4 linked regions of the Homo sapiens genome follow. The protein of the gene in region 4 binds, or shares a complex with, the protein of the main gene of each other region. Each region holds a gene or a part of one and is shown on either strand. Other genes may lie near its edges.

Region 1 (7,996 bases), on a different chromosome or scaffold from region 4:
TTTGTCACATTTTATTGGTTGACACTTCGTTTTTATGACATATTATTTATTATACACCAAACTATCTCATTTAATGATTCCAATTTGGGGAGGTATCCATTTGACAATTGAAAAATTTAAGTAGGATTATATGAGATAATAAGTATGATTATATGGAAATAAGATTGTGCCCAAATTCTGAAATTCTACAATTACTGTATATTCTTTATATAAATAGTAAGGCTGTTGGGTAACATCATTGCTTCCATCATTTATTAACTCCAAGGTAAACTATAACTGTGTTTCAGTTGGATATCTCCATTTTTTTGGTGTTGGCTCTTCAAGATGCTATAGAAAAGTAAGAGCGAAACATACATGTTTTTATAGGTATATTGGTGTTTACTTTGTTTTAACTTTAATATCTGACTTTGATCTTTCCTTTCATTCCCCAAATTAGATTGAAAATGATTAGAAGGTTTTTATCTTTTTTTTTTTTTTTTTTTGAGGCAGAGCCTTGCTCTGTCGCCCACGCTGGAGTGCAGTGGTGCGATCTTGGCTCCCTGCAAAACTCTGCTTCCCAGTTGAAGCAGTTCTCCTGCTTCAGCCTCCTGAGTAGCCATCCAGGAGGTTTTTATCTTATTTACTTAATGTAGCAGTTTATCATACTGGTGAGAGTTCGGCGAAAAATGATTTAAAAAATAATTCAGCATGAGAAATACTCATGAGATTTTGATAAATTAGTGGATTAGGGCATGTAGAATTTAGGTCATAGTGATGTTAATGACACCTGGTGCAAAATAAATATTTAGTAACAGGAACAGATATTGATCTTGATTTTGGAGATTTTAAAATAAAATTCTGCTGGGCGCAGTGGCTCATGTCTGTCATCCCAGCACTTTGAGAGACAGAGGCGGGCAGATCACTTGAGGCCAGGAGTTCAAGACCAGCCTGGCCAACATGGTGAAACCCCATCTCTACTAAAAATACAAAAATTAGCACAGCATGGTGGCACGTGCTTGTGGTCCCAGCCACTTGGGAAGCTGAGGCATGAGAATCACTTGAACCTGAGAGGCGGAGGTTGCAGTGAGCCAAGATTACCACACTGAACTCCAGCCTAGGTGAGACTCCATCTCAAAAAATAAAATAAAATAAAATTCTGAGTTTCATTTTGAGGTGTTATCTTACATTACCCAATAAGCATTCCTGAAAAGTGTATGTTTTATACTCTATCTTTTTTTTTTTTTGGTTCAGGGGGAACTCCCAACAGGATTTCCTGTGGTGGAAAGGAAGCTTGTTGGAAGGTTTTATTATTATTATTATTATTATTATTATTATTATTATTATACTTTAAGTTCTGGGATACATGTGCAGAACGTGCAGGTTTGTTACATAGGTATACATGTGCCATGGTGGTTTGCTGCACCCATCAACCCGTAATCTACATTAGGTATTTCTCCTAATGCTGTCCCTCCCCTAGCCCCCAACCTGCCTCTACTATATCTTGATATGTACTTGATCATCATACCAGCAATACTGTACTTATTTGTTTATTTTTCCCTCCTTTACTCTTAAAGTTGATGGGGATAGGGACTGTGTCTTATTCATGTTTTTATTTCCAGCAGCTAACCAGCACTGGCATATGGTAGACTTTCAGTTGTCACTGTGAGCAGTCATTTAGCTGGTATTTGTTTTATGTTAATGTATAACAGCTTCTAGGACATTAAGGTTCACATCTCTGTTTTCTAGATTATATAGAGATGAAAGTACCATTTTACCCAACAAAGAGATACACGTAACAATTTTAAGTTTGAACATTTTTACAGTTGTATTAAAAATAGAAATAAGATTTTATAAGACTCTCATTTGAAGTTAGCGTTTAGAAAATTTTCAATAGTATGTAGCTTTGTCAGAGAATAGAATATTGAGTTGGCAGGAATCAAATTGTGTTTTGGATTGTTTTGTGATTACAGAAGGTCTGAGTGCTTACAATTTAAAACCCCATGTCCATTGATGACAATAGAATGTAGAATTGGGAGATGATGTAATCCTTTCTATGTTTTGATATTTAACTATATATATGACATTGATATCCAAAAGATATATATGCATTCCGTATTATGGCTATGTATTTAAAGACTGGCATTTCTTTTTATATTCTACACTGAAACAAAATTACCTTGAAACCTTGGAATATAGTGTCTGAAACCTCTAGAAAGTTTTTTTTAATGCTGGTTGTTATTGTTAAGTATTGTTTATTTCTTTAAGTTAAGGATTTGTGTTTAAAATTCTTTTGTTTCTAGTGTTTACGAAAATGGGGTTACAGAAGATGTGAAGATATTTGTTGGATTAAAACCAATAAAAACAATCCTGGGAAGACTAAGACTTTAGATCCAAAGGCTGTCTTTCAGAGAACAAAGGTATTGCCTTTACTGATTTGTTTTTTTTAATTTTTGTGATTTTCTCTCAAGCTTTTCCAAATAACTGTATACTGTTTAATTAACTTCAGTGAAAAGGTCCTTTTCTTAGACTTGTAAAGACAGCATTGAGCATTACAGGAATACATCCAAATTAGTTTTAAAATGTTTTATTCATTATCTTAGATCAACCCCACCATGCTAGAAAGGGGAGTATATATTCCTCCATGTCCTAAATGCCATATTTCTAAGTTAGATAAAGGCTTTTGATCACACTCACCCGCAGAATTTTTCTAGGCTCAGAAAGAAGAGATAGCAAGATCGCAAGACTCGAGTTGGCCAGCTTAGAGACGTATTTCTCTCTTCTTTCCTTCTTTTTCCTTTACAAGAACCCCTGAGAACTTCTGTTTGTTGTGACTCTGCCCTGCTAGTATCAGGCTTTAACAGTTTTTGTTCTTACTTTTTAGGGAGCCTCTGGTGGGAGGGTCTTTCTTATTAAGTCTTTTTTGTACTGGAATCATGCCTAGGTAATGAAGCCTCCGTAAAATCCCAAGATGGGTTGGAGAGCTTCTGGGTTGGTGAACCTGTGGAGTTTCTGGGACGGTGGTCTGCTTGGAGAGGGCACAGCAGCTCCATGCCCCATGCCCCATGCCGCATACTTTTCATTATGTGTCTCTTCCATCTGGCTGTTTTTGAGTTGTATCCTTTTATAATAAATAGGTCATAGTAAGTAAAGAGCTTTCCTGAATTCCTCGAGCTGTTCTAGCAAATGATCTAACCTGAGGAAGAGGTCATGGGAACCTCTGATTTATAGCTGGTTGGTCAGAAGCACAGGTGACAATCTGGACTTGTGATTGGTATCTGAAGGTGGGGCATTCATGTGGTTCTCAGCCCTTGACCTGTGGGGTCTGCACTAACTAGGTAGATAGTGTCAGAATTGAATTGAATTATAGTGTTGATGGAGAAGTGGAGAATTGCTTGGTATGGGAAAAACCCACACATCTGGGATCAGAAGTGAAGTATTCTGAAAATACTGAGTGTTGTGAGTGCGTAGAAGAGTTTGTTTTTCTTATTTACATGGCAGTCTTTCCTCATCCAGAGATCCAGGTTTTCCTGTTGTTTTGTTGCCCATAGAACTGTATCTCACCAGAAATGGTGGCTCACTTCTGTAATCCCAGCACTTTGGGAGGCCGAGGTAGGTAGACCACTTGAGCCCAGGAATTTGAGACCAGCCTGAGCAACATGGCGAGACCCTGTCTTTACAAAAAATTTAAAAATCAGCCAGGTGTGGTGGTGTGTTCCTGTGGTCCCAGCTACTTGGGAGGCTGAGGCGGGGGATTGCTTGAGCCCAGGAGGTCAAGGCTGCAGTGAGCTGAGATCGTGCTACTGTACTCCAGCCTGGGTGACAGAGCGAGACCCAGTCTCAAAAAGAAGAGAAATAACTGTATCCCAAAGATTCCGAGAAATGAGGATTGTTTTAGAATTGAGGACATCAGAAATGTGAAAGGTTTTGGAATGACTGTTGATGAAAACAGATTAATTGGTCTGCTCTTGTTATTTAGGAACACTGCCTCATGGGGATCAAAGGAACTGTGAAGCGTAGCACAGACGGGGACTTCATTCATGCTAATGTTGACATTGACTTAATTATCACAGAAGAACCTGAAATTGGCAATATAGAAAAACCTGTAGAAATTTTTCATATAATTGAGCATTTTTGTCTTGGTAGAAGACGCCTTCATCTATTTGGAAGAGATAGTACAATTCGACCAGGTAGGACCTCAGTTAACAACAACTTTTATGATTCTTTGGGTTATGCATGTCAAGAAATAGGACATGGTGCTGTGTAAAATAAAGTTCTTATGCATTTGATTCCTTTTCTTGCTGTACTTCAAATATGAACAGTTTCAGGTCCACAGCAAAATTGAGAGGAAGGCACAGAGACTTTTCCATATACCTGCTGCCCCCACACATGCATAACCTTTCCAGTTATCAGTATCTCCCAACAGAGTGGTACATTTGTTACAAATGATGAACCTACATTGACACATCATAATCACTCAAAGTCCACAGTTTACATTAGGATTCACTCTTGGTTGTAGTAATTCTGTGAGTTTGGACAAATGTATAATGACATCTATCCACCATTATAGGATCATACTCAATAGTTTCACGGCCCTAAAAATCCTCTGTGCTCCACTTATTCATCCCTACCCACAACTCTTGACAACCACTTATCTTTTTACTGTCTCCGTAATTTGCCTTTGTCAGAATGTTACATAGTTGGAATCGTATAGTATGTAGCCTTTTTAGATTGGCTTCTTTCATTTGGTAATTGGCATTTAAGATTTCTCCATTCCTTTTCATGGTTTGATAGGTCATTTCTTTTTAGTGCCGAATAATATTCCATTGGATGTACCGCAGTTTTTATATCCATTTACCTACTGAAGGACATCTTCCAAGTTTTGGCAATTATGAATAAGCTACAATGGAAATCTGTGTACAGGTTTTTGTGTGGTCGTAAGTTTTCAGCTCCTTTGGGTAAATACCAAGGAGCACAAATGCTGGATTGTATGGTAAGAATGTTTAATTTTGTAGGAAACTGCCAAGACTGTCTTCTGAAGTGCCTGTACCATTTTACATTTCCACCGGCAGTGAGAGTTCCTGTTGCTCTGCATCCTCACCAGCATTTGGTGTTGTCAGTGTTCAGGATTTTGGCAATTTTAGTGTGTGTGTAGTGGTATCATAATGTTGTTTTAATTTGCATTTTTCTGATGACATATGATGTAGAACCTCTTTTCATATGCTTATTTACTATCTGTATGCCTTTTTTGGTGAGATGTCTTTTAAGGTCTTTGGCCCATTTTTTATTTGGCTGTTTGTTTTCTTATTGTTGAGGTTTAAGAGTTACTTGTATATTTTGGAGAATAGTACTTTATCAGATTTGTTTTTTGCAAATATTTTCTCTTATTCGGTGACTGTCTTCTCACTGCCTTGTTGCATGTTTATTTTTATTTAATTACTTTCTGCTTTTTTATTTTCTTTCTAGTTTCTTTGGATTTACTTGCTGTCTTTCTATCTGAAGTATTTTTAGATTGATATTCAGGTTAGGGGTACAGGTTTAATTTTGTACTTGTAAACTACTAGTACAAAAAGAAAGAAAGAAATTGAATAGGCAAGAGTTTCAAGAAAGAAACTCTTGCAAAAATTTAGTATTAGCTACATGCAAATAAGGAAGAAAAATTTGATGGATCAAAGTGTAGATGTTTGGGAGTTAGCCATATAAATAATAGTATGTGCAATTGAGAGTCTGTTCAAGAGACCTTAATTTATGGCCAGGCACTGTGACTCAAGCCTGTAATCCCAGCACTTTGGGAGGCCAGGGTGGGCAGATCACTTGAGGTCAGGAGTTTGAGACCAGCCTGGGCAACATGGTGAAACCCTGTCTCTACTAAAAATACAAAAATTAGCTGGGTGTGGTGGTGTGTGCCTGTAATCCCAGCTACTTGGGAGGCTGAGGCAGAAGAATCACTTGAACCTGGGAGGCAGAGGTTGCAGTGAGCCGAGATTGTGCCACTGTACTCCAGCCAGGGTGACAGAATAAGACCCTGTCTCAAAAAAAAAAAAAAAAAAAAGACCTTAGTTTATTAAGTTGCTCCTCAAACACACTTCTTCCTCAAGGACATAGCCTAAGGTATTTCACATATACCTTAGGAATACAATTTACCATTGCTTTAAAATAAAATTTACAGATAACTATGTGAGTCAAATACACTCTGAAGCCAGACAATTTTTTTTTTTTTTTGAGACAGGTTCTCACTCTTGTTCAGGCTGGAGTGCAGTGGCACGATCTTGGCTCACTGCAACCCCCGCCTCCCAGGTTCAAGTGATTCAGCCTCCTGAGTAGCTGGGACTGCAGGCGTGTGCCACCACACCTGGCTAATTTTTTGTATTTTTAGTAGAGATGATGTTTCACCATGTTGGCCAAGCTGGTCTCGAACTCCTGACCCCAAGTGATCGCCCGCCTTGGCCTCCAAATTGCTGGGATTACAAGTGTGAGCCACCACACACCCAAGCCAGACTATTTTAAACTTACTCTGTTCTTAGTAATACCTTTAGAATTTCTGATAAAACACAATGTTGCTGTGCAGAATTTGGAAGAGAGGGGAATCCCTTGGACTTCTATAGCCAGTTTACTCTGCAAGGATTTCCATGTTTTACGTAAGAGACAGTATAGCAAGGGAGACAGAGTATTAGTTATTTTTATTATATCTTTAAATTTTCTGTTTCTTATTCCTTGTTTGTGGTGTTGTGTTCCACATATATTGAATATTATCTTCCATAATACCACAAACATGCCAAAAAACAAACTAGAAGGCAGCAAATAAAAATCTCATAGGTTTAATAGTCAGTGAGAGCCCATAGGTGTGGAATGTGCTCTTGATCATGGTATCTGCCAGGTAATACATAAAAGACACAGTATAATTAACCTTTTTTTCTTCAACTATTACAAATCTTACTGTATTCATGCACTTTTAGAAACTAAAAATGTTTTAAAAAACAATGAACTAAGTATTGTACAGAAATGGCTACTGTATTTTAGAATGTGATCCTAGTGAAATATTTTTCATTTTATAGCTTTTTATGATGCATCTACTTTTCTAAGAAATAACCTAAGGATGATGGGGCAGATATATTATAAACCTAACTTTGCAGATAAATAACCTAATTCTTACAGATAATTGGACCTGTCCCAAATAATGCTGTGTCTCTTATAATGCTCCAGAGGCATATTTTCAGGGTCCCCTACAAAGGGCATGTCTGTAAGAGTCACCACACCCAAAGAACCCCAGAGCACCGTGTCTGTATTGGGTATTTGTAGTTCCTTCCATTCTAAAGACAGTTTAATCAATCAGAAAATATCCTTATTACAAGAAAAGTTGTCTAGCAATATAATTGGCAAAATAGCTGTTTACCTACAGAAGTATAATGTGCAGTGGAAATTCTGAGAAAGAAGAAATAATTTTCATTTCATGTAAGAAATATATTTGAATTGGATGTTGAAGGGTGGGATTTTTAACAGGTTGACAGGATAGAAAAGAAAATAATATGGGCACAAAAATCGGGGTTAGTATAGAAGCAGTTACTATAGTAGTTCATTGTTTTCCTTAGAGGTTCATGAAAAGCATTAATGAGAAATGTTATTGGAAAGTTCATTCAGCCATCATTGTAAAAGATCTTAGATTTTATATTTATGAATTTGGGCTTTGTGGAAACAGTTGGAAGGTTTTTGAGCAGAGAAGTGACATGTTTTAAGCTTTGCTTTAGGCTTTCCACTTTTAGAGGGAGGAGAAGCTATAGGTTGGGAGATCATTACAGTATATATGTGTGTCTGTTACACATGTGTTATATGGTAGGGTATTGACCTTGTAAAAAAAAATAAAGGCTTAAATTTGAGGGTGGCAGCAGAAATGGAAAGATAGGAATGAGTGGGAGTAACATGGTAGTGGTTGAATTTCTCAGACCTATCAACTGAGAATATTTTCTAGTTAGCAAGTGTAGAGCAAAAGTTGGTTCCAAGATTTTAATCAGAAAATGGCACC
Region 2 (7,977 bases), on a different chromosome or scaffold from region 4:
AAACATTTTCAATAATGTAATGTCACTACTGTTTAAATATGAAAATAAAAAGACAAGCAAAATTTTAAAAGAGCATGTCAAAGGCATTTTATGATGACTTTTTAAGAAATTCTGCAATCCAAATATGGCTGATTTAAATGCCCACTGAAATAAAAGATGACTATGAGCCTGCAGACAACTCTTCTTTCTATTATTGAAACCAGAAATTTGAATTGATACAAAAACAAAAACTCATCTTTGATGAAGAACACTTAGTTTCGAAATATGCACGATTAGAACTGTACCTGCTACACCTCTCTGAAAAAGTCAGTAAAAACACCACCACACACCAATAACTGACCAAAGAATTCTGATTTTAAAAGCACCTACTCACTTCTTGCATACTAGTGTAAGCATAAGACATATATGGTTTGTAACATAGTCCTTAATTTTTACTGAACAGTTACTGCTACAAACCAAAAGTGCATATATGGGATACAGAACTCTAGAACAAATGATTTAAAAAATGCATGTTAAAGCAAACTCTCTGGGAATAAACTGTATCTTAAGAAATACTCAAATACCTGATTAAAATAATTACATTGCTATACAATTTACCAGCATATCTTTGAGATCCCTGATCAAATTTCAGTCACACACATTTCTGGTAAAAGAATTATTTACCTACACACCAATCGAGTCATTTTTAGGTGGCTATTACTCTCTTTATATGGTCAGTGGACTCCTTTCTCCAAATTCTGACTTTTCAAAATTTTGGTTTTGTAACTCTGAGGATTTTTTAAGCTCAAGATTAAAAAAAAAACAACTGAATAGAGAAAAAAAATTACTCATAAGGGTGGGAACTCCTAATTAAAGCAAATCTGTCTGCCTGCCTGCTACCTTTAGGGCATCCCTTTCACTTAAAATAATAGCTAAACAAACAAAAAAATAGCTAAACTGTCCTGATTTCTATTTTAAAGACGTTTATAAAAATATAAAAAAGAAAATGCTACAACTAACAACTAAAAAGAAAATTGCATCTGATGCTGTATCCCATTACACATCACAAAACAGGAACCATGTCAAAGTAGTAAATACAAGTTACACATGGACTTTAGGACGCACCACGGACAATGATCATGACCAGGTAATCTTCTTCAGATTTGGCCAGTGCCTTGGCAGGGGAATCCAGGAACTGCTGGGAGAACTCACAAGGTGGGAAGGCATGAAGGACCCCGGTGTTTTCCTTGTCTTTGTTGCCCCCCACAGGGAGGCTGATCACCCCGGCTGCCTGCTTTTGCTTTAAATAGGACACAAGGTTCCTAAGTGGCCTCTGAGTAGAAGTGGCAGTGTCTGATGCAGCTGAGGAAGAGGAGGACCGGCTGTCAGAACTTCCAGGCACAGCCAAAAGAATGGCATAACCATTGGGCCCTGCTACTTTGATGCGTCGAGTTACTTCATCCAACTTGGGCTGGTCCAAACGGAGACGCTGAGTGATCTTGAGCTGGGCCACTTTGCCTCCAGTTGAACCCTCCACAAGAAGACTACTAGCCACTTGGAGGTCACCCTGCAACAGATGCATGTTGGAAGGAAAGTTGCTGTTCTTCAGTAGAAGCATGCCCTGCCAGGCCAAACAGAGTTTGGGAGAGGCTGATGCCACAGGGGCTGTCCCCCCATCCTGTTTCTGGGACGGGGACTTCAGCTTGGAGGAAGCAGTGCTGGTGCTAGGTGCACTCCCATCAGAGCGGTCTTCTTTTTTCAGAGGGCTTTTTCCCTCAGTGGGAGCAGTTGTCCGGTGCTTCCTATCTCGTTCAGCTGATGCAGAGTTTTTACGGTCTCGCTTGTCACCCTGGCTCTTCTCCAAACTACCTCGTCTGTCTCTGATTGGAGAGGGCCTTTCCAAGAGAAGACGGGAAGATCGATCATTGTCGCTGTTGTAACGATCCCGGCTACTGCTCAATTCTGGACTGCGGTCAGGAGAAGGAGCGCAGTGACGTTTTCGTGGGCGGTCACTCTCAGGAGACCTATCCAGATGACGTCCTCCACTCTCCTCAGGCAGCCTTCGCTTCCTAGGCTGGTCTCTGCTGCTGGGCAGATCTCGATCACCTCTGTCCCGGTCCAAGGACCAACCATCCCGCCTGCGATCTAGGCTATCCAGTGGCTCGTAAGCAGGCACAGAAGTAGCTGCAGTCCGAGTGCTGCGTTCTCGGACTGGGGGTGGGGGTGGCACCCAATCAGAGTCAGGATAAAGGTCCCTATCACGATCTCTGTATAGTAAGGGTGGTGTCCTATCCCGAGCACCCCTCAAAGGGTCTGGTGCCCGATGTCCAAAAGCATCTGTCACCAGCTCATAATGAGTCAAGGGCAGAGGCTGCAGATACTGCTGCTGGTAACGATGTTCGGTGTCGGCAAAGTCTACTCTAAGGCGTCGATCTGGGCCACCAAGTGGGAAGCCCCGCATATGGGTCCAGGCAGCATGCGCTGCATCCAGGCTTTCATACTGGATATATGCCCAACTATCACCTTTTCGGTAGTCTATGGTGCGTATGGTGCCAAATCGATCAAATTCTCGTGCCAGGGCAGCAAGAGGAACCCAAGGTCCCAGGCCTCCCACCCAGAGGCGGGTGGTGGGTGTAGCTTTACCATAACCAATTTTGATAGGATTCCGAATTATAATTTTGCCAGACATTGCTAATTTGGCCCGGTGAGACATATCTAAGTTCTCAAATTTGAGAAAGCCGTAAGTACTAGTCTGGCCGCGAGAAGGCCTCTTGATATCTACTTCTGTGATGACTCCAAAGCGATCAAACGCCCTTCTTAAATCACTCTCCGTTACAGTGATGTCTAGGTTGCCCAAGAAGAGCGTCCGGTTAGCTCGCTGATCATCCTCGGGTGAAATCTCATCCACTTCTCTGAAAGGAGCAGCACCTGCTCCAGCTCCCACCCTTGGCTCAAGACTGTATGCAGGGCGCACTCTCTCATAGAACGGGTAGTCTCTTTCTCTCTCCAGGTCTCGAGGCAATGGTGGCGGAGGTGGAGGGGGCAGGCGGCCAAGAGCCAACTGCTGCAGCCGGTAGTCTCTGTATCCCAAAGCAGCGCCACCAGGGGAAAGTGATCTCTGGCCTCCACCACCTCCAGGGGGGTGCCGGTGACCACCTACAGAGGCCCCGACCACACTGGCTGATGGAGGATAAGTATCTTTGTCTAAAGGGGAGCGGCTGCGGCGCCGGCTCACATACACAGCTTCTATCTTCAGAGGCCGGTCATAGAGCACCAGGCGGCCTCTGGCATGCTTGGCCGCCCGCGCGTCCTCTGGCCGCCGGAAGTTCACAAAGGCTACCCGCTCATCCCCGCTGCCAGAACCCGACAGATGACTGATTTTCACACTTACATCACCGAAGCGTTTGAACTCATGAAACAGGCCGTCCTCCACCGCTTCGTCACTAAGCTGGGACCCCAACTCGCTTATCTTCAGAGTCTTGTATTCCGCGCCGTCCCCGCCGCCGGGAGCTGAGGAGGCGGCCCCAGAGGAACGTGACTCCCCGCCTCCACCCCGGGAGCTGCTGCGCGATTCGCCCCCGCCCGAAGAATTTTTGGTGCTCGGGGAGCTATAACTATGCAAGCGGCTACTGGAGCTGCCCCCACCGGTATCATACTCGCGGCTGCCACCTCGACTGCTGGACTTGTCCAGGTGGAGACTCCGCCGCGACCCACCGCCGCTATCGGTCTTTCCGCTGCTGCTCCCATTGCTGCCACCAGAGCCCCCTAACTTCTTGCTCCGCTCACCGCGGGAAGTCGAGTCCTCACCACCACGGGAGCGTTTGGCCTTCACTGGCGAGCGCTCTTTTCCCTTCATTGTTGCGGGTCGTCGGAGGTCGTCTCCGCGGAGCTGAGTAACCCGCCGCCCCGCGCTCGTTTCACACAGCGGAACCGCACGCCGCCATCTTGGACTCCGCCGCGGCACAGGGTCCCGCCCCGCAGTCCTCATTGGCCAATTGCTCTCTCTTCTACAGTCTCATTGGGAAAATTATTTGTCTATCTTTACATCTCCCCGCGCTCCAGGAAGGCGCCCGCCCAACCACTGTTATTGGGTTCCCAACCCCCTAGTCGGAGTACCTCATTGGTTACATTTGTTGTCTATCTTAACGGTTCCTCGCGCCAGACTGTAGCTCCGCCCCTCGCACTCTGCGGTCACGTGACCCAAAGTGTTGAGGTGTTGATTGGACAAAAAGTCTGCCCTGTAACGGTACTTCTTGCTCAGTGACAGCAGCAACCCACCTCCTTATCCCTTTCATTGGCTTATAAACCCGTCCTTTAAACCACTATTTGGGAGGTCGGGCCATCAGTTTCGGCGTTTTTTCCAGAGAGGCAGGCTCACAGCGATATCGCGAGAGACGGTAAGCTCCCTCTTTCGACCCCCTTTTTCCAACTCCTCCGGCGGCTAAAAGAAGTTTAAATCTGATTGGATGTCGGCAAGGAAGTTGATAGGCTGAAATAACTGTCCATCACTCGCTTAAAGGGGTAGGCCTGTATAACGGAGGAGGCTGACTGAAGGTGAAAGACTAGAACACGTGCTTGCTGTGCGACGTCACTTAGATGTCGCGAGAGGGTGACTGTGCGCCAGCCCCGCCTCCCCGCGTTTTCGGCGTTCTCCCCACAAACATTTGTTAAGTTCCGTGGGGTGTTTGGCTGTGCTTCGGCCCTTGGAGTTCGAAACTTCTGAGCTCCCCGCCGTCGTACCTGTGCCGGCCAAGGGGCGGGGCAGGCTTTCCGGCTGTCGGGGCCCTCCAGTCCCTCAGGAAGCCGTCCTGGGACGCCTAGCGGACACCATTTTACGTCGCTGTGGTAGCTGAGTGAACAGCCGGGGGGAGCCCCGCCCCCCGCGCGCGGGAGAGCGCCGCCCGCGGTCACCTGGGCCCGCGGGGCAGAGAGTTCACGGTTCCTGCAGCCTCGGGTCATGCTGACGCCCCCGGGCGGTGCTAACACGTAACACGCGGGACCTCGAGAGCTAAGAAGCAGGGCGACTAAGACGCAGCCCTCGCCCAGGAGCCCGTCTCTCCCGCGAGCTACCCGTTCCCGCCCAAGTACTCCGGGTAACCGAGGGGAGTGACCGTCGCTCCCCGCCTCGTGGCCCGCGGGCGGAGCCGGAACTGTCGGGACACCGCGGACGTGTCTTTGGGCGGCATGTTTTATGTTGCGAATCTGTGTGGATTTTTAAATTCTGTATTCCCCTAAAATAGCAGTGTTTTTAATATGTAATGCTTCTACCCTGAAAATCACCAAGCGAAATTTAGGCTCCATGCAGATATGTCACTTGTTTTTCCCCCTGTGGCTTCTTGTATCCCTTGGCACTCTTATTGTGTGTTAAAAGCCAGCAGCACAGGCACCTTGCGGCCGCTCCAGATCCACCTCGTTTGGCTCCTTCAGTCGTTCGCCGTACAACTTTCCTTTCCATAGTGCGTTACTGTGGCGGACAGAGCACCTGTGAGAGGTGCAGGCGATGCCGAGCTTAGGGGGGTATGGCCTGTGCCCCAGCACTCGCCGGTTGCTGGAGGGACGCAGCGCTGAGGTCACCACAGCCTTTAGACTGTCTGCAGCCCTCCCAGGTTCGCGCCGGGGCGGAGGTTATGAGGATTCTTGTATTGATCCGGTCCTCAACCCTATTTCCCAAGATCCAATCTATAGTAGAGGGTGTGAGGTGTTTTTAAACGTGACATTTTTCAAGGTAACAATAATATCCCAAAAGCTGAAACCTAAACTTAAAAACTGTGTTAAGATTAGGGACTGTAACCTAAATTTAGCCTTGGCTGAGCCATCCTTCTTTTTGTAAATAATCGTGAGGAATGTGAAGCTGGAGGCCTTCTATCTCTTGATTAGATCAAAGAAACTCGAAGGAAGAAGCTCAATTGTAAAGCATAAAAATCCACAATATTGTAATGTGTAGACATCTTCATTGTATTAAAATGGGAAATAAAACTTCATAAGGCATAAAATAATGTGTATAATACGCTACCATTTGTGGTTTTAAAAATGTTTGTATTTATGAGTATGTACATTTAAAAAATATATTTTCATGGAAACTTTCTTGACAAATACACGGGAAATTGTTACTAGGATTGCCCTGAAGAGGTGTGCGAGGGTCTGGAGTAGGAGGGAGACTTTACTTTTCTTTGTAGAAATCTTTTGTTTCTACAAAGGGCGCTATTACTCCTTCAGTTTAAAAAATAACATTTTTAACTTTCCTTAAACTATTTTTATGGAAAAAGTTTAAAATATATAAAAGAATACTTTAAAGAACTCCCATGTGTACCCAACACCCTATTTCAGCAATTATCAAATCATGTCAATCTTGTTTCATCTGCATCACTCTTCCCACTCTTCTTTTCTCCATTATTTTCTTCCAGACTTACCTGATACATTTCCTGCCCCAGTTGTGGAATCAGCCATTTCTCCAGAGAGCTCTGGTTCCTTTTAGTGGGAGATGGTATTTAAAGATAAAAATCTGGATGCTGGAGGATAAAAAACACATGAACACATTATTTGTAAAAGCATGAAATAAAAAGTTATAGCTGGGTTTAAATCTGTTTCAAGGTTATATTAATAGACCACAAATGGAAATTGAAGTTAAGCCATTATCTGATTACTCAATGTAATAACCAATCGAGATAATAAACCAGGCACCAGAGTGACTTTTTAACCTAAATAGACCTGCTAAGGTGACTCACTGATCAAAGAAAAAGATAATGACCAAATCAGTAGTTTTCCAAACTTCAAGATAGGGGTTGAGGGAGCACAAGATTTGAGAGAAATAATTCAGGGAGATAAACAGACACCCAGTCTGTGTGAACATGCACCAGAGGCATGCCAAGTTTAGTGGCTTGCCACTTCAAATACCAGGGAGCTTGATGGAAGCTACTGCCTGCAGCTGGCTATAGTACAAAGGCTTGCCTAGGGGGACTGGAAATCTGCCTGGAGCCAAGAGTGCTAGTAAGTTTTATGGTTAGATGGAAAAGGCCTAGATTCCATTAAGAGTAACAGCCAAAATATTGCCTGTGATGTGTATGTGTGTGTGTGTGTGTGTGTGTTTCCACAACAAATGAATAAGTTGGATCCATGCTGTAGTTAAAATAAGTGATTGTTTTCATTTCCTTTGTGTTATTGCCCCCAAAATTACCCCCTCCCCTGGCTTCCAGCAGATACTACCTGAAAATCCTTTGTGTTCTTTAAAGCAGTGGTCCCCAAACTTTTTGGCATCAGGGACCAGCTTCATGGAACTGTTCCACCTCAGATCATCAGGCATTAGATTATCATAAGGAACACACAACCCACATCCCTCACATACTCCATTCACAATAGGGTTAGCCCTCCTCTGAGAATCAAATGCCTCTGCTGATCTGTCAGGAGGCAGAGCTCAGGCAGTAATGCTCCCTCCCCTGCCCCTCACCTGCTGTGCAGCCAGGTCCTAACAGGCAACTGACCATTACTGGTCCACAGCCTGGGGTCTGGGAACCCCTGCTTTAAAGCATAAAGCTGCTTAGTGAGTTTTTTATTTTTTTTGTTTTTTCTTTTTTGTTGTTTTGTTTTGTTTTTGTTTTTGTTTTAGAGACAGGGACTTGCTCTGTCACCCAGGCTGGAGTGTAATGGTGCAGTCATAACTCACTGCAACCTCAAATTCCTGGGCTCAAGCAATCCTCCCGATTCAGCCTTCCATGTAGCTAGGACCACAGGCACACACCACCACACTAAGCTAATTTTTTAATTTTTTGTAGCAATGGGGTCTAGCCATGTTGCCCAGGCTTATCTCAAACTACTGGCCTCAAGTGATCCTCCTATCTCAGCCTCCCCAAAGCACTGGGATTACAGATGTGAGCCACTGCACCCAACCAAGTTAGGTTTTATCCTCTGTTTACATGTGTGCTTTAGAGAGGGCACATGTGTAAAAGTGGATAAAAGTGACCCATGGTTTAGTTGGCCAGGACTTTGAACCCTTCTTTTGCT
Region 3 (7,996 bases), on a different chromosome or scaffold from region 4:
GATTTTAGAATTCTGCTTTTCACCAGATACTTTTCTTGTTCCAGGACTGCCTATGTGCTTGCTGATGTCATGGATGATCAGTTGAAATCTATGTGGTTCACTCCATTTCAGGCTGAAGAGATAGATACAGATCTGGATTTGGTATAAATTATTACTAAATATTTAGAAAAACGTTATTGTTTTTTCTGTTTCTTTATATATTGTTAGCATTATAATAGTTTCCATATTTTATGGCTGTTAAAGTCTACTTGGAAGCAAGTCCTACATTATTTTTATGCCACTTGCCCACTTCATGGCATCCAGAAAGTTTTTTCTCCTGCTTTTTTTGCTTCTTTCTAGTTAGTGATCTGTATTTTGAGGTTGTGACTTTTTTGCTAATTTTTTTTTTTTTTTTTTTTTTTTTTTTTTTGAGACAGAGTCTCACTCTGTCACCCAGGCTGGAGTGCAGTGGCACAATCTCAGCTCACTGCAACCTCCGTTTCCCGGGTTCAAGTGATTCTTCTGCCTCAGCCTCCTGAGTAGCTGGGATTACAGGCCTGTGCCACCACGCCTGGCTAATTTTTTTGTATTTTTAGTAGAGACTGGGTTTTACCATGTTGGTCAGGCTGGTCTCAAACTCCTGACCTTGTGATCTGCCTGCCTTGGCCTCCCAGAGTGCTGAGATTACAGGCGTGAGCCACCATGCCCAGCCAAAAAAAAAATTTTTTTTTAATATAGATAAAGTCTCACTCTGTTACCCAGGCTGGTCTCACTCCTAGCCTCAAACAATCCTCTCTCTTTGGCCTCCCAAAGCGATGGGATTACAGGCGTGAGCCACCACATTTGGCCAGAGAATGTAACTTTTTTAAGGGAAAAATCACACTTTTGCATAAGTTCTATGAAGCACTTTGTTTTCTTACTTGACGGGGTATAGAACAGGGAAAAGTATCCCATAAAACAACAGTTTATTCTTGCATTTGGGTTCAAGGAGAGGAATGGTTGTGCTATGGTGTGGCTCTCAGTTTGGAAACTTGTGAAGAATGTATTTGTTATAGTATAGTATGAATGGGAATTGACATTCTTAAACATAATGCTGAATAGGTAAGAGTATAATTAACTATTTAAAATTTATTGCAGTCTGTTCTATGCTTCTCAGAGATGTGGTAAGGCGAATTATTTTAGCCACATCTTATTATACAGTACATTGTTCCTTTTCTTTATCAAAGAAACATACTGGTGTTCATCATATACAATAAAACTAAGAGAATGATTTGCTTCACATTTGTATTTAGTGTGTTGAGGGCTGCTTTTCCTTTTTTAAAAAACCACATACAATTCAATTAAAAGTGCATTAAAAATTAATTTCTTTTTAGTGCAAGCTGTTCAGTGGTTCTTTAAAACTGTCCTCTCCAGTAGAATTTTATGCAATAATGCAAATATTTTGTAGTCTGCCCTGTCCAAAACAGTAGCCTCATGTGCCTGTTGTACAATTGAAATGTGGATGACTAGGGAACTGAATTTTATTTTGATTTAATTTTGATTAATTTAGATAGGCACATGTTGTTAGTGGCTACCACGTTGGGCAGCACAGGTATAAAATATTTGTTAAAAGTTACTAATTTTTTAACTTTAAGTTGAATCACAACTGTCTTGTGATGATAATTGTAACCCTCTGGATTAGAGAAATTTTAGGTATCTTACATTTGATAAATTTGAATAAAACCTAAGTAAACTGAATGTTGATTTCCCTGAAATTAAACTTAGATGGGAACCTCATTAAATGCATAGAGCTTTTGGGAATCTGTGGCACAGAATCTTTTTGTAATAGAAATGTTGACTATATAAGGCTGGCAGAGTATGTTATTTTCAGATTCTTTTTTTGGAAAAGTTCAGGAGATATTACAGTGTTAATTTATATAGACAAATACTGAGTTTCCTGCTCAGGCATCAAAGTTCTCCTAGATTAATAGCCCTGCTTTGAAGAATGCCACACACAAAAAAAGTAGCATTACTAAGGTGTGTGTGTGTGTTTGTTTTTAAACTACCAATGCCATTTGCTTTTTGAAAAGATGAAAGAGGTAGATCTATAATTTATTTCTTATGAGAGGCAAATATAATTTATAGGTAATAAGAATTTCTGTAGTCAAATGTTATGCTAATAATTACATTTAATATGTGTTTTGTTTCATTATTATGACTGCAGGTAAAGGTTGACTTAATTGAACTCTCTGAAAAATGCTGTAGTGACTTTGATTTGCACTCAGAATTAGAGCGCTCATTTTTGTCAGAACCATCATCTCCAGGAAGAACCAAGACTACTAAAGGATTCAAACTTGGGAAGCACAAGCATGAGACCTTTATAACGTCAAGGTAAAATTTATTCCACTGAAGATCTCAAATGTCATCACATAAGCTTATGTATTTTAGTATATTTTAAGATAGACACATGCGGCCGAGCGCGGTGGCTCACGCCTGTAATCCCAGCATTTTGGGAGGCCGAGGTCAGGAGATCGAGACCATTCTGGCTAACATGTTGAAACCCTGTCTCTACTAAAAATAAAAAAAAAAAAATTAGCTGGTCGTGGTGGTGGGTGCCTGTAGTCCCAGCTACTCGGGAGGCTGAGGCAGGAGAATGGTGTGAACCCGGGAGGTGGAGATTGCATTGAGCCGAGATCACGCCACTGCGCTGCAGCCTGGGCGACAGAGCAAGACTCTGTCTCTCAAAAAAAAAAAAAAAGACACATGCTATTAAACTAGAAAGGAAATTAACATAGCATTCGAATCATGAACATTGTTTGAATTTTTTAAATTTAAACGTAATAATTTGGCCAGGATATACCCAGTACATTTGTTATATTGTTTTCTACAAGATTTTGGAAGGTTTGAATAAGAAGTGAACTGGATTATTTTAAAACATTGTTATTCATAACAATGAAATGTGAGTACTTTTCTTAGCTAGTTTGTTATATTATCCCAGAAGTATGATAGATACTTGCAAAGTTAGCAGAATTGGAGTACAAAAAAACTGAAATATAATTTTGGGTATTATAAAGATTATTTTTGCTAGAAACCTGAAAGAAAAATGTTTTATGGCATGTTTTTGTTTTAATAGTGGAAAATCTGAATACATTGAACCTGCCAAAAGAGCTCATGTTGTGCCACCACCAAGAGGAAGGGGCAGGGGAGGATTTGGACAGGGTATACGACCTCATGATATTTTTCGTCAGAGAAAACAGAACACAAGTAGACCACCATCTATGCATGTGGATGACTTTGTTGCTGCTGAAAGTAAAGAAGTGGTTCCTCAAGATGGAATACCTCCACCAAAACGGCCACTCAAAGTATCACAGAAGATTTCTTCCCGTGGTGGGTTTTCAGGCAATAGAGGAGGACGGGGTGCTTTCCACAGTCAGAATAGGTTTTTCACACCACCTGCTTCAAAAGGTAACTAATTAGTATGTATTTTCTAATGGGTTAGAATATTGGAATGTTAAAATATTGAATGAAAGTGATTTAGATGGAAGAGATTCAGATAAACAGTTTTCCTGTTGCTGCAGTTGAGCCACCTCTGGACTAGTGGTACTGTTTGCAGAGTACTCTATTGGATAGAAGAAAGAAACTTTTTTTCAATGAACCTTTCATGCATTGTACTTTTAATAATGAGTTTAGAAGTCTTGGCTAATTATTCCCCCCGGCCTTTTTTTTTTGAGACAAGAGTCTTGCTCTGTCGCCCAGGCTGGGGTGCGGTGGTGTGATCTCAGCTCACTACAAACTCTGCCTCCCTGGTTCAAGTGATTTTCCTGCCTCAGCCTCCCAAGTATTTGGGACTACAGGCATGCACCACAATGCCCAACTAATTTTTGTATTTTTAGTAGAGATGGGTTTTCGCCGTGTTTGCCAGGCTAGTCTCAAACTCCTGACCTCAAGTGATTCACCCCCCTTGGCTTCCCAAAGTGCTGGGATTACAGGCATGAACCACCGTGCTCAGCCTTATTTTCCTTTTTACATTGAGAATTATACATTTTCTGAGTAATACCCTTACATTATTTTCACAATTATACTTAACAGTTTTCTTAAGATTGTTCTGTGCAGTTCACCATTGATCTGCCTAATCTGCTTGTTTTCTAATGTTATATTTAGTCTGTTTGAAATTGTTACAAGATTTTTTTTTTTGGAGACAGAGTTTTGCTCTTCTTGCCCAGGCTGGAGTGCAATGGCGCAATCTCGGCTCACTGCAGCCTCTGCCTCCTGGGTTTAAGCGATTCTCCTGCTTCAACCTCCCGAGTAACTGGGATTATAGGCATGCGCCACCACACCCGGCTAATTTTTATATTATTAGTAGAGACGGGGTCTCACCATGTTGGCCGGGCTGGTCTCGAACTCCTGACCTCAGGTGATCCACCCACCTTCGGCCTCCCAAAGTGCAGGGATTACAGGCGTGAGCCACTGCACCTGGCCTTACAAGATTTTAGAAACTAGGGATACTTACAGAAATTATACTTTAGTAGTGGATTGATAAACATGTTTTCATACCTGCTGAGTTAGGAGGGTGAGAGTGAAAGAGAATCTGTGTTTATATTAATAACAAACACTTAGATTAGGTGTGTCAGGAACTGTTATAAGCACTTTACATATTATAACCTCATGTCAACCCCATGAGGCAAGTTCTCTTAGTACTCCCAATTTGCAGAAGAGAAAATTGTCAGTCAGCTGACCAGGGCACATAAATACAAGTGGTAGAACCAGTATTTGATCCCTGGCAGTTTGGCTCTAGAGCCTCTGCTCTTAACCACTGTGATGTTGCCACTATATAGTACAGTCAGTTTGCAGAATTTCAGTTTCTTTTCCATTCTTTTGAAGATTAAGAAAAATCTGTCACTTAAAAGAATCCAACTGAAGTTGTGAAAAAAGTGATTTTGATTGTGCTGTTTGTGTTTAGGAAACTACAGTCGTCGGGAAGGAACAAGAGGCTCCAGTTGGAGTGCTCAGAATACTCCTCGAGGAAATTACAATGAAAGTCGTGGAGGCCAGAGCAATTTTAACAGAGGCCCTCTTCCACCATTACGACCCCTTAGTTCTACAGGTATACATCCTTGCTACTTGATATTGCTGAGAGAAGGGAAGTAAATTCCTCCTTTAAAATTGTTGATATCATATACAGAGGGGGCTAGGGGTGCTAATCTCCCCATCTCCTTGCTCCACACAGTCAAAAATCTAAGTATAACTTTGACTTCCCCAAAACTTAACTACTGCTAGTATACTGTTGACTGGAAGCCTTACAGATAACATAAACAGTTGATTGACACATATTTTATATGTTATATATATATTATATAATGTGTTACAATTAAATAAGCTGGAGAAAAGAAAATGTTATTAAGAAAATCATAAGGAAGAGAAAATACATTTACTATTAAGTGGAAGTGGATCTTCATAAAGGTCATAACATTCCATAGGCTGAGGAAGAGGAGGAGAGGTCTTACTTTCTTAGGAGCAGCAGAGGTGGAAGAAAATCCTCATATAAGTGGACCTAGGCAGTTGAAACCCATGTTGTTCAAGGGTCAACTGTACTCTCATTCTGGAAGAGAATATTTTAGAGTATAGACTTAAAGTTCTAAAGTTTATATCCTTGAATGAATGCCCAATATACATCTTCTGTAAAAATAATCAAATTTTTAGTTTCTGAACTGTTTGTATAATCTGAACAGTTTCATGGTGATGTGCTCTTATTTTTATGTTTCAGTAATGAAAGCCAATGCTTAAGGTATCTTTCTGACCACAAAGTATTTTAATAACAGAGATACCTTTATACAGCATATATTTTTTTGGTTATAGTATTGTCTTAGGTGTGTAAGCACATAACCTTTTTTTTTAAAACATTTATCTAGTCCAGAATTTTACTTATCAGAAGTAGCTTTTGGTTTCAAATGCACATTTTTAAAAAATAATAGTTTTATTTAGGATATAATTCTCATATACCATATAGTTTACCTGTTTAAAATGTATAATTCAAAAATCTTTGGCCCATTCACCGTGCTTGCACGTGAGCTTTAAAAGAGAATAGAGTAATTCTTGGTTTGAGCTCAGTGTCGTAGATTAGTATTTATAATCTTGGAAAAGAAAGGACATTGGAACTAAAAACTGTATTCTTTCTTTTACAGGTTACCGCCCAAGTCCTCGGGACCGTGCTTCTAGAGGTCGTGGGGGACTTGGACCTTCCTGGGCTAGTGCAAATAGCGGCAGTGGAGGCTCAAGAGGAAAGTTTGTTAGTGGAGGCAGTGGTAGAGGTCGTCATGTACGCTCCTTTACACGATAAAAATCCTTTTGGGAACATCTTAACTGTATATGAACATTTCACGAGGACAATAAAAATAAGACATTGAAGGACCAATTTAGACTTAGCAGTTATCTGGAGACATCTGAGAGAATATTTTTATCTGAAGAAAGCAGAATTTGTTTGATACCTAACAAGATTTCAATAAAAATCCAAACTTTGTATGTACGTTTGTATATATTTTCCCTTTTTTGTATGACTATTTATTTAGAAAATTTCTAGGTGAAAAACTAAATGATGTTTTGTATTTTTCTTGCCTATAGCACAGATATTCTCAAACTTTCTCAGCTCATGACACTATTTAGTGCCTCAGTACTTTTTTCACAGCATACCTGGTCCAAAAGAAATATCTAATACTTGTGTTTATTAAGCAGTTAGATCCAACAGCTTAATAAGAATGTACATCATCACCACTAGTAACTGTGGACACTGCATGTCTCAAACCTTGGAATCAGTATCATTTTCTTTTCCTCTCTGCTTCTTGCACAGTACTTTTTATCAAACTGCTGAAAACCCAGTTTTGTAAAGATATGTTGTTATAGAAAGGAATATAATGCTATTTAATGTTGAAAATGTAAACTACCTCAAAGTAGTAGTTTATGTGATGTCCAACAGGTGTTGCTATGTTTTTCTCAAAAATTTTAAAATATTGTGTGGCACCCATGTTAATTTGCTAAGGTGCCCTGCTACACAGTTTGGGAACCATGGCTGTACCAAAAGAAACAAAATACTCCTCTCCTTTGTATTAGAAATCTGAACTTTGCATTTCAGCTTTGGACCTACTGACACTATTTTATTATACAAATTATTTAAAGCCTAAAATAAGGAATATCCTAATACTATTATTTTGGGAATCAGAAACATCTAATAAAGCTGGACTTTATACATAGAAATAAAGCTTACAACTTTGAGAAAGTAGCCATATTTTCCCCAAGATACGTCTTAACACACTGAGTCTATATAAGTGGCGTAAAATACAGAGTTATCTTAATCAGAAAAGGAGTGTATGAGTCTCATTCCATCCTTTTATCAATCTCTGTTTTGGAGAACTATTTGTGAGTGAATACAATCTTCATTAAGAAAACACTTTGAAGAAAAGCTTAGCTGTAAAGAATCAGAGGTTTAGGTGAAAGGTTATGGCAATCTTTTCATAACTAGTGGCCTTGAAAAACCCAAGTCTTGAGCTGCTGTAAGAAAATACCATAGACTGGGTGGCTTAAACAATAAAAATTTATTTCTCAAAGTTCTGGAGGCTTGGAAGTCCAAGATCAGGGTGTCAGCATGGTTGGGTTCCAGTGAGGGCCCTCTTCCTGGCTTGTATGCAGCTACCTTCTTAAGTGCTCACATAGTCTTTCCTTGGTGCTTGCTTGGAGAGAGAGCGAGCTCTTGGGTCTTTTTCTTCTTACAAAGGCACTGTTCCCACCATGCAAGTCTCATCCTCATGATCTAATCTAAATCACAGTACCTCCCAAAGGACCCACCCTTTTAGTACTACTACATTGAGGGTTAGGAGTTCAATATATGAATTTAGGGAAACACAAGACTCAGCGCATCAAGGTAACTTAAATCCCCTTTGATCCTGAAACCTAACAGGCTCATTTTCCCCAAAGATATATTTTACACATTAGGTAAAATTCGAAATTTGCCCCAATGTCTGACACAAATACATGTAAAAAATAGTTA
Region 4 (5,778 bases):
TTTCTTAGAGTGATGAGGATATTTATGAGAGTAGTATTTATGAGAATATACAAAGTTGGAAGAAAGGGAAATAAAGCGACTCTATATAAGCATTTGAGAGGAATAAAGAGATTGAGAAGTAAGAGGAATAGAAATTAGATTTGGAAGAGATCTGTTAATGAAATCTGGTAAACCCAAGATGAAAACATTTTAGACTCTTTAAAGTTAAGAAACTGGGATTTTTGGCCGGGCGTGGTGGCTCATGCCTGTAATCCCAGCACTTTGGGAGGCCAAGGCAGGTGAATCACGAGGTCAGGAGATCGAGACCATCCTGGCTAATACAATGAAACCCTGTCTCTACTAAAAATACAAAAAATTAGCCGGGCATGGTGGCGGGCATCTGTAGTCCCAGCTATTTGGGAGGCTGAGGCAGGAGAATGGCGTAAACCAGGAGGCGGAGCTTGCAGTGAGCAGAGATCGTGCCACTGCACTCCAGCCTGGGCGACAAAGCAAGACTCCATCTCAAAAAAAAAAAAAAAAAAAAAAAAACTGGGATTTTTATTTGGGGTGGTGAGTGGATGGGTATAGGTAGTACAGACTGAGTATTCCTAATCCGAAGCTTTTGAGCATCGACATGACCCTCAAAGGAAATGCTCTTTGGAGAATTTCAGATTTTGGATTCTTAGATAGGGATGCTCAACTGGGTAAGTAAATGTAATGCAAATATTCCAGAATCCAAAAAAATTTCCAAATCTGAAACATTTCTGGTCCAAAGCATTTCAGTTGAGGACTACTCAACCTGGATGACAAAAGAGAGTTGGTGTGATTCTTTGCTTAGAAAGTTTAGAGTAATGATAAAATGGTTAACTTCACTAGCTTTTTACTTGGGGCAGTTAGGAAAACAGAATTATCTTTGACTATATAACATTGCTAAAGAAAAGATTACTTCATTAAAGAAAAATACTCAGATTTAGGGTAGTGGGTAGGGGGGATTCAATTTTTAAAAAACAGAAGAATGAGTTTATCTCCAAAGATTAAAATGGAAACAAATACGAGGAACAGGAGATTTTTAAAACATGTCTTGACTGTATAATCAAGTTTTCCTCACTTAAAAGTCTGGTTCAAGATTACTTTTGACAGAATCACTACAGTCATTCTCCTTTGCTCCCTGATTTCAGTATGCACTTTTCTTTGTTTTGTATTTTGTAACATTCCCTGGTCCCTTCTCTATGACAATAACTTTCCAAAAAATGCTAATGTAACTTTAAGTCACAATAATATAGATACATATTTTAGTATAAGGGAGGTAGTAGTTCTTCAGCATACTGCATGATTAGCTGTCTTCTAAAGGATTTATTCAGTTTTCGAGCTCACTTTTTATGGGACATTGAAAGATTGGTAAGGAGTATAGAATAGAATGTTTGGCTTACAGAAGGAAAAACTATGTGAGGAAGGAACTCATGGCACTTACCTTCATAGAACTGAAGGATTGTCAAGTAAAGGTAAGATTGAATTACAGTGTAGCACCATAGAAGAGCTTTTATTCCATCACATGGAAGAAATAGTGCCATTCAACAACAGAACGTGCAGTGTGTTTTTTGTTTGTTTTGTCATTGGAAATGATAAAGTAAAAACCGGTTGATTACCTGTCAGAAATTGTTGAGAGGATTCCTACTTTAAGCAAGAGGTTAAACTAGGTGCCCTCTAAAAGTTTCTTTTCAAAGATTCATTGAGCCCAAACACATTTTCTAATTTTGCTTTGAAATCCAATAAAGCTAATTTAATATCCAAAATGAAATACTCTTATAACTTTGATATTTTGGGTAGAGGTTAACCTGCCCATCTTTCCTACTAATAATGTACATCTTTTTTAAAGTTTGTTTTTGTTTTCTTCAAATAGGGCACCATAAAACAAGCTTACACGAGTGCTCCAATGGTAGACAATGAATTACTTCGATTGAGTCTTCGGTTATTTAAGCGGAAGACTACTTGCCATGCTCCAGGACATGAAAAGACTGAAGATAATAAACTTTCACAGTCCAGTATCCAACAGGAACTGTGTGTGTCTTAAGACCGAAGTTCAATATGGTATTTTTGGTACTGTCTTCCTTCAGCAGTGCATATTCTTTTGCAAAGTTCTTTGGTTTGACAAGCATTAGTGACAAAGGCAGAAAAGATTTATCAGCCATGCTAAAAGAGTGAAGAATTTTGATCTTTAGAGACACTAGTTTTGGCCAACTTAAGATTTTACGTTAATTTTTACATAGTATTTGACACTCATGCAAAATAATGTGAAAACATCTAGATTTAGTAGTTTATTCTGCGCCTTTTGTTAAAACTGAAGATTTTGGAAAATGGTTGTCACTGCTCTTCCAGCCTATGAATATTTTTGTGAAATGGAACCATGGATTTATGTCTGGATCATCCATACAGAACCAACAATTTTATTCAAAAACAATGTGTTCATCAAAGTAATTGCTCACATTGTGCAGTACTATGTTGTACAGACCACGTGAAAGGGAATGCTGGTCTAGCTGGCGTGGTATGTTTATAGGCGAATTTCAGCAGAAGGAAGCCAAAATAGTTTTTTCCTTTTGAAAGTTTTTTAAAAATTATTTCATGGGTCTTTTTTTTAATTAATATGTGTGCATTGTTACAATGTATGTTGGATGTCTTTTGACCCTAAATGCTTTTTTTGTTATCAGAGATTGTGTACTATTTTTATTTTTAATAAATGTATCTTCCCTTTCCTTGTTTTAGATTTACTTTGCTCTTCGTTAATCTTATTCCTGATGATCTAGAACATTAGTCATCAACATTACATGTTTCATGCTTCAGATATTTTACTGCTTGTGTCCTTATTGTTGGACAGCTTTAAACAGAGTTGATGTACTTCAAATATAGCTCATTGATACTTAAGGCATCTTCTTGGAATGTGGCTTTTGAAGAAAAAAATTACTCAAAGCAAATCAAGAGTTAACAAACCTAACGTAACCTGAGGTTTAATATTCTACTATCATATTTTTTAGAGCTATAACTTTTGATTATATTAAACTGCCTCCAGCTGTACTATGTAAAACAGATTTACTTTTAAAAATTACAGTATACCTGCTTTGTTCTATATGTATATGTTTAACTCATGAAGTGGACTCTTAGAAGGATTTGAAATGGACTCTGGCCACAGAATTTGTGAGCAGACAGTAGTAGTGATAATAATAAAAGAAGGCAATCAAAATTTAATTTTATCATGCCCTCTCACAGGTTTGTGTTATAATTGTAAGCCCATATTACTTGTGTTAGTAGTTTTGTCTCTATAGGTAACATAATGACAGTGGTGTAAAGTTTCTGTTCAAGAAACATATGTTGTAAAGTTACTTTATACAAGATACCTGCCAAAGGAAATGGTCTTACTTTCAAATGACTTTGAAAGCATGTATAATTGCAAACAGAGCAGGAGAAGACTTTAATCAGAATTTCCTTGTGTCCTTTTCCTTTACTAAGTGTTTTGAATAAAGAAAAAAAAAATGTATGACCTCAGAGAATGAATACCCTTCAGGAAGCCACTTCCTGATTTTAGTGGATAATATTGTTCTCTGTAGCACAAAGATTTAAAGTCCTAGAATTTCTAATCCTAGTTCTCAGAATTGTAGAATATGACAAAAATAATGGTTTCCCCATTTGTCCACTGACTTCAGGGATATTTCACAAGTTATTTATTTATAGAATGAAAACTATGTAGTTAAATCTGTCATTCAGTTAAACCTGTTGTCTTTCAGTTTGAAATCTTTTTGTTATGTATGTTGCAAAAGAAAATTTAGAACTATTCCTTTGTTCACTCAGTCACAGCATTCAGAGCTTTATGTTTCCAGTGGAAATGTACTGTTCAGTCTCAATTTCTTTTAATTCAACCATTCTCAGTATTAGTAACATATACCTATAAAATTTTTCTAAAGCAAAATTTTTGATTGAATTTCTCATAAAAGCTCTTGGACCATAATTAAAGTCTCAGTTAAACTGGTATTCCCGAAAAACAATCTTCCAGTCTATAAATTGTTTGCTAGTACAATTAAAAGGTCATCTATCTCATAACTGACGGCTCAGGTCTGTCCAGTTGCCATAATTGCACAACTGGATTCCAGCTGCTGGTAATAAGGAATTGTGTAGATAGATAAAGGGCAAGAGTATGTCTGCAATCCAAAATAAATGAGAGTTAACACATAATTAGCCTTTTGATTATTTTGGCAGCTATCCTCACCATTTAGTAAAGGGTATACTAACAATACCCAACTTTATTTAACAAAGTTTTGTAAGCATACCTAAGTAGTAACTTGATATGCTGAAAAATCTGACCTGTCACTTCGCTTCACTCTGACCAGTAATTGCAGATTGTCGTCACCATCCTAGCCTATGACTACATTAGGATTTTATGACTTATTAACTTGAAAATCTGTTCTGTAAGTGGCATTGGTAGAATCTCCCACTTTGCTCCTCACTGTCCAATTGTGTAAAGATTAAGGTACATACTATTGTTGGTGATGCTTTTACACCTCAACTTGCTATTTTAAAAGGTTATATGAACCCCTCCCACTTTTAAGGATATTCCCTTTTACTGATTTTCCTAGCTAAAATTATATAGCCATCTTTCTAAATATTGTATTTAAATCTGATCTAGGACTTGCCTTATTTTATCATTTTTCTTTAATAATCTCCAATAAACTTTCTTTATTCATTAATTTTGTTGATCTTTCCATTTCAGTATTTTGAATGACACTCTGGGGAATCCAAGTTTAAATGGTGAAATATTTTTATTAAATAACTTTCTACATGCATCTGTAAACATACTTTCTCAACTTTATTGAGCTGTTTCTTTCATATTTTTTTTTCTTTTTTAAATTATTTTTATAGAGATGGGGTCTTGCCTGGGCTGGTCTCAAACTCCTGGCTTCAAAGCCATCCTCCCGCCTTGGCCTCCCAAAGTGCTGGGATTACAGGCATGAGCCACCATGCCCAGCCCTTTTTTTTTTCAGAGGCAGGGTCTTTCTCTGACCCCCAGGCTGGAGTGCAGTGGCAGGATCATAGCTCACTGCAGCCTCCAACTCTAGGGCTCAAGGGATCCTCCCACCTCAGCCTCCCAAGTAGCTGGGACTACAGGTGTGCATCATCATAACTGGCTAATTTTAAAAAGAAAAATTAAAAAAACACTTTGGTAGGCCAAGGCAGGAGGATTGCTTGAGCCCAAGAGTTCAAAACCAGCCTGGGCAACAAAGTGGGACACCATCTCTGCAAAAAATACAAAAATTAGCCAAGTGTGGTGGCACGTGCCTGTAGTCTTAGCTACTCAGGGAGGCTGAGGCAGGAGGATTGCTTGAGCCCAAGAGGTTGAGGCTGCAGCGAGCTGTGATGGCGCCACTCCATTCTAGCCTAGGCAACAGTATGATACCCTGTCTCAAGTTTAAAAAAAAAAAAAAAAGGTGGGGGGGGGATCTTACTATGTTGCCCAGATGATCTCAAACTCCCAGCTTCAGGCAGTCCTTCCATCTCAGTCTCCCAAAGTGTTCGGATTACAGCCGATAGCCACCACCTGGTTATACTGTGATAGAAGTACAATTGGAGTAGCTTAGGTAAAGATGGGAAGTAAATAGACATGAATAAAATGTAAATTGCAGTGATTGCAATTAAAGAAAAAACCAAATGACTGAGATGAGAAATAAGTGTAGCGATTGGGAGTTGGGTACTACTTCAGATTATCAAGAAGGTCTTACGTATGAGATGAGTCCTAAAAAATGAAAAGAAGCTAGC

The links.
Region 1: ZC3H13 (region 4) and METTL14 share a complex: the UniProt entries of both Homo sapiens proteins name them as parts of the WMM complex.
Region 2: ZC3H13 (region 4) and RBM15 share a complex: the UniProt entries of both Homo sapiens proteins name them as parts of the WMM complex.
Region 3: the proteins of ZC3H13 (region 4) and VIRMA are in contact, whole or in part, in a cryo-EM structure (PDB 7VF2), measured with the Homo sapiens proteins. Residues at the interface, in NP_001317494.1 of Homo sapiens: Pro1492, Leu1493, Asp1494, Val1495, Ile1496, Asp1497, Val1498, Asp1499, Trp1500, Ser1501, Gly1502, His1507, Leu1518, Lys1520, Phe1521, Pro1523, Val1526, Met1527, Arg1529, Val1530, Gly1531, Ile1532, Ser1533, Lys1535, Leu1536, Ala1537, Gly1538, Leu1541, Lys1544, Val1545; in NP_056311.2 of Homo sapiens: Leu521, Ser529, Tyr531, Gln532, Leu535, Glu536, Ile538, Leu539, Leu540, Asp541, Val544, Val547, Thr548, Ser551, Leu554, Gln555, His558, Glu561, Val562, Ser564, Glu565, Lys567, Gly570, Asp571, Ala574, Glu575, Thr577, Ser578, Glu621, Glu625.

The regions. Positions count from the first base shown.
Region 1 is NC_000004.12:118,701,656-118,709,651, forward strand, and holds part of METTL14 (N(6)-adenosine-methyltransferase non-catalytic subunit METTL14), read left to right. Parts: intron 1-1,230; coding exon of another isoform or gene 1,231-1,280; intron 1,281-2,279; coding exon 2,280-2,396; intron 2,397-3,955; coding exon 3,956-4,166; intron 4,167-7,996. UniProt on the Homo sapiens protein: The METTL3-METTL14 heterodimer forms a N6-methyltransferase complex that methylates adenosine residues at the N(6) position of some mRNAs and regulates the circadian clock, differentiation of embryonic stem cells and cortical neurogenesis.
Region 2 is NC_000001.11:110,335,396-110,343,372, reverse strand, and holds the start of RBM15 (RNA-binding protein 15), read right to left. Parts: upstream 3,997-7,977; 5' UTR 3,968-3,996; coding exon 1,105-3,967; intron 1-1,104. Other genes in the region: uncharacterized protein LOC124904276, read right to left, coding at 4,432-4,938. UniProt on the Homo sapiens protein: RNA-binding protein that acts as a key regulator of N6-methyladenosine (m6A) methylation of RNAs, thereby regulating different processes, such as hematopoietic cell homeostasis, alternative splicing of mRNAs and X chromosome inactivation mediated by Xist RNA.
Region 3 is NC_000008.11:94,487,005-94,495,000, reverse strand, and holds the end of VIRMA (protein virilizer homolog), read left to right. Parts: intron 1-44; coding exon 45-141; intron 142-2,182; coding exon 2,183-2,349; intron 2,350-3,091; coding exon 3,092-3,423; intron 3,424-4,918; coding exon 4,919-5,062; intron 5,063-6,140; coding exon 6,141-6,295; 3' UTR 6,296-7,312; downstream 7,313-7,996. UniProt on the Homo sapiens protein: Associated component of the WMM complex, a complex that mediates N6-methyladenosine (m6A) methylation of RNAs, a modification that plays a role in the efficiency of mRNA splicing and RNA processing.
Region 4 is NC_000013.11:45,953,399-45,959,176, reverse strand, and holds the end of ZC3H13 (zinc finger CCCH domain-containing protein 13), read left to right. Parts: intron 1-1,879; coding exon 1,880-2,050; 3' UTR 2,051-4,712; downstream 4,713-5,778. UniProt on the Homo sapiens protein: Associated component of the WMM complex, a complex that mediates N6-methyladenosine (m6A) methylation of RNAs, a modification that plays a role in the efficiency of mRNA splicing and RNA processing.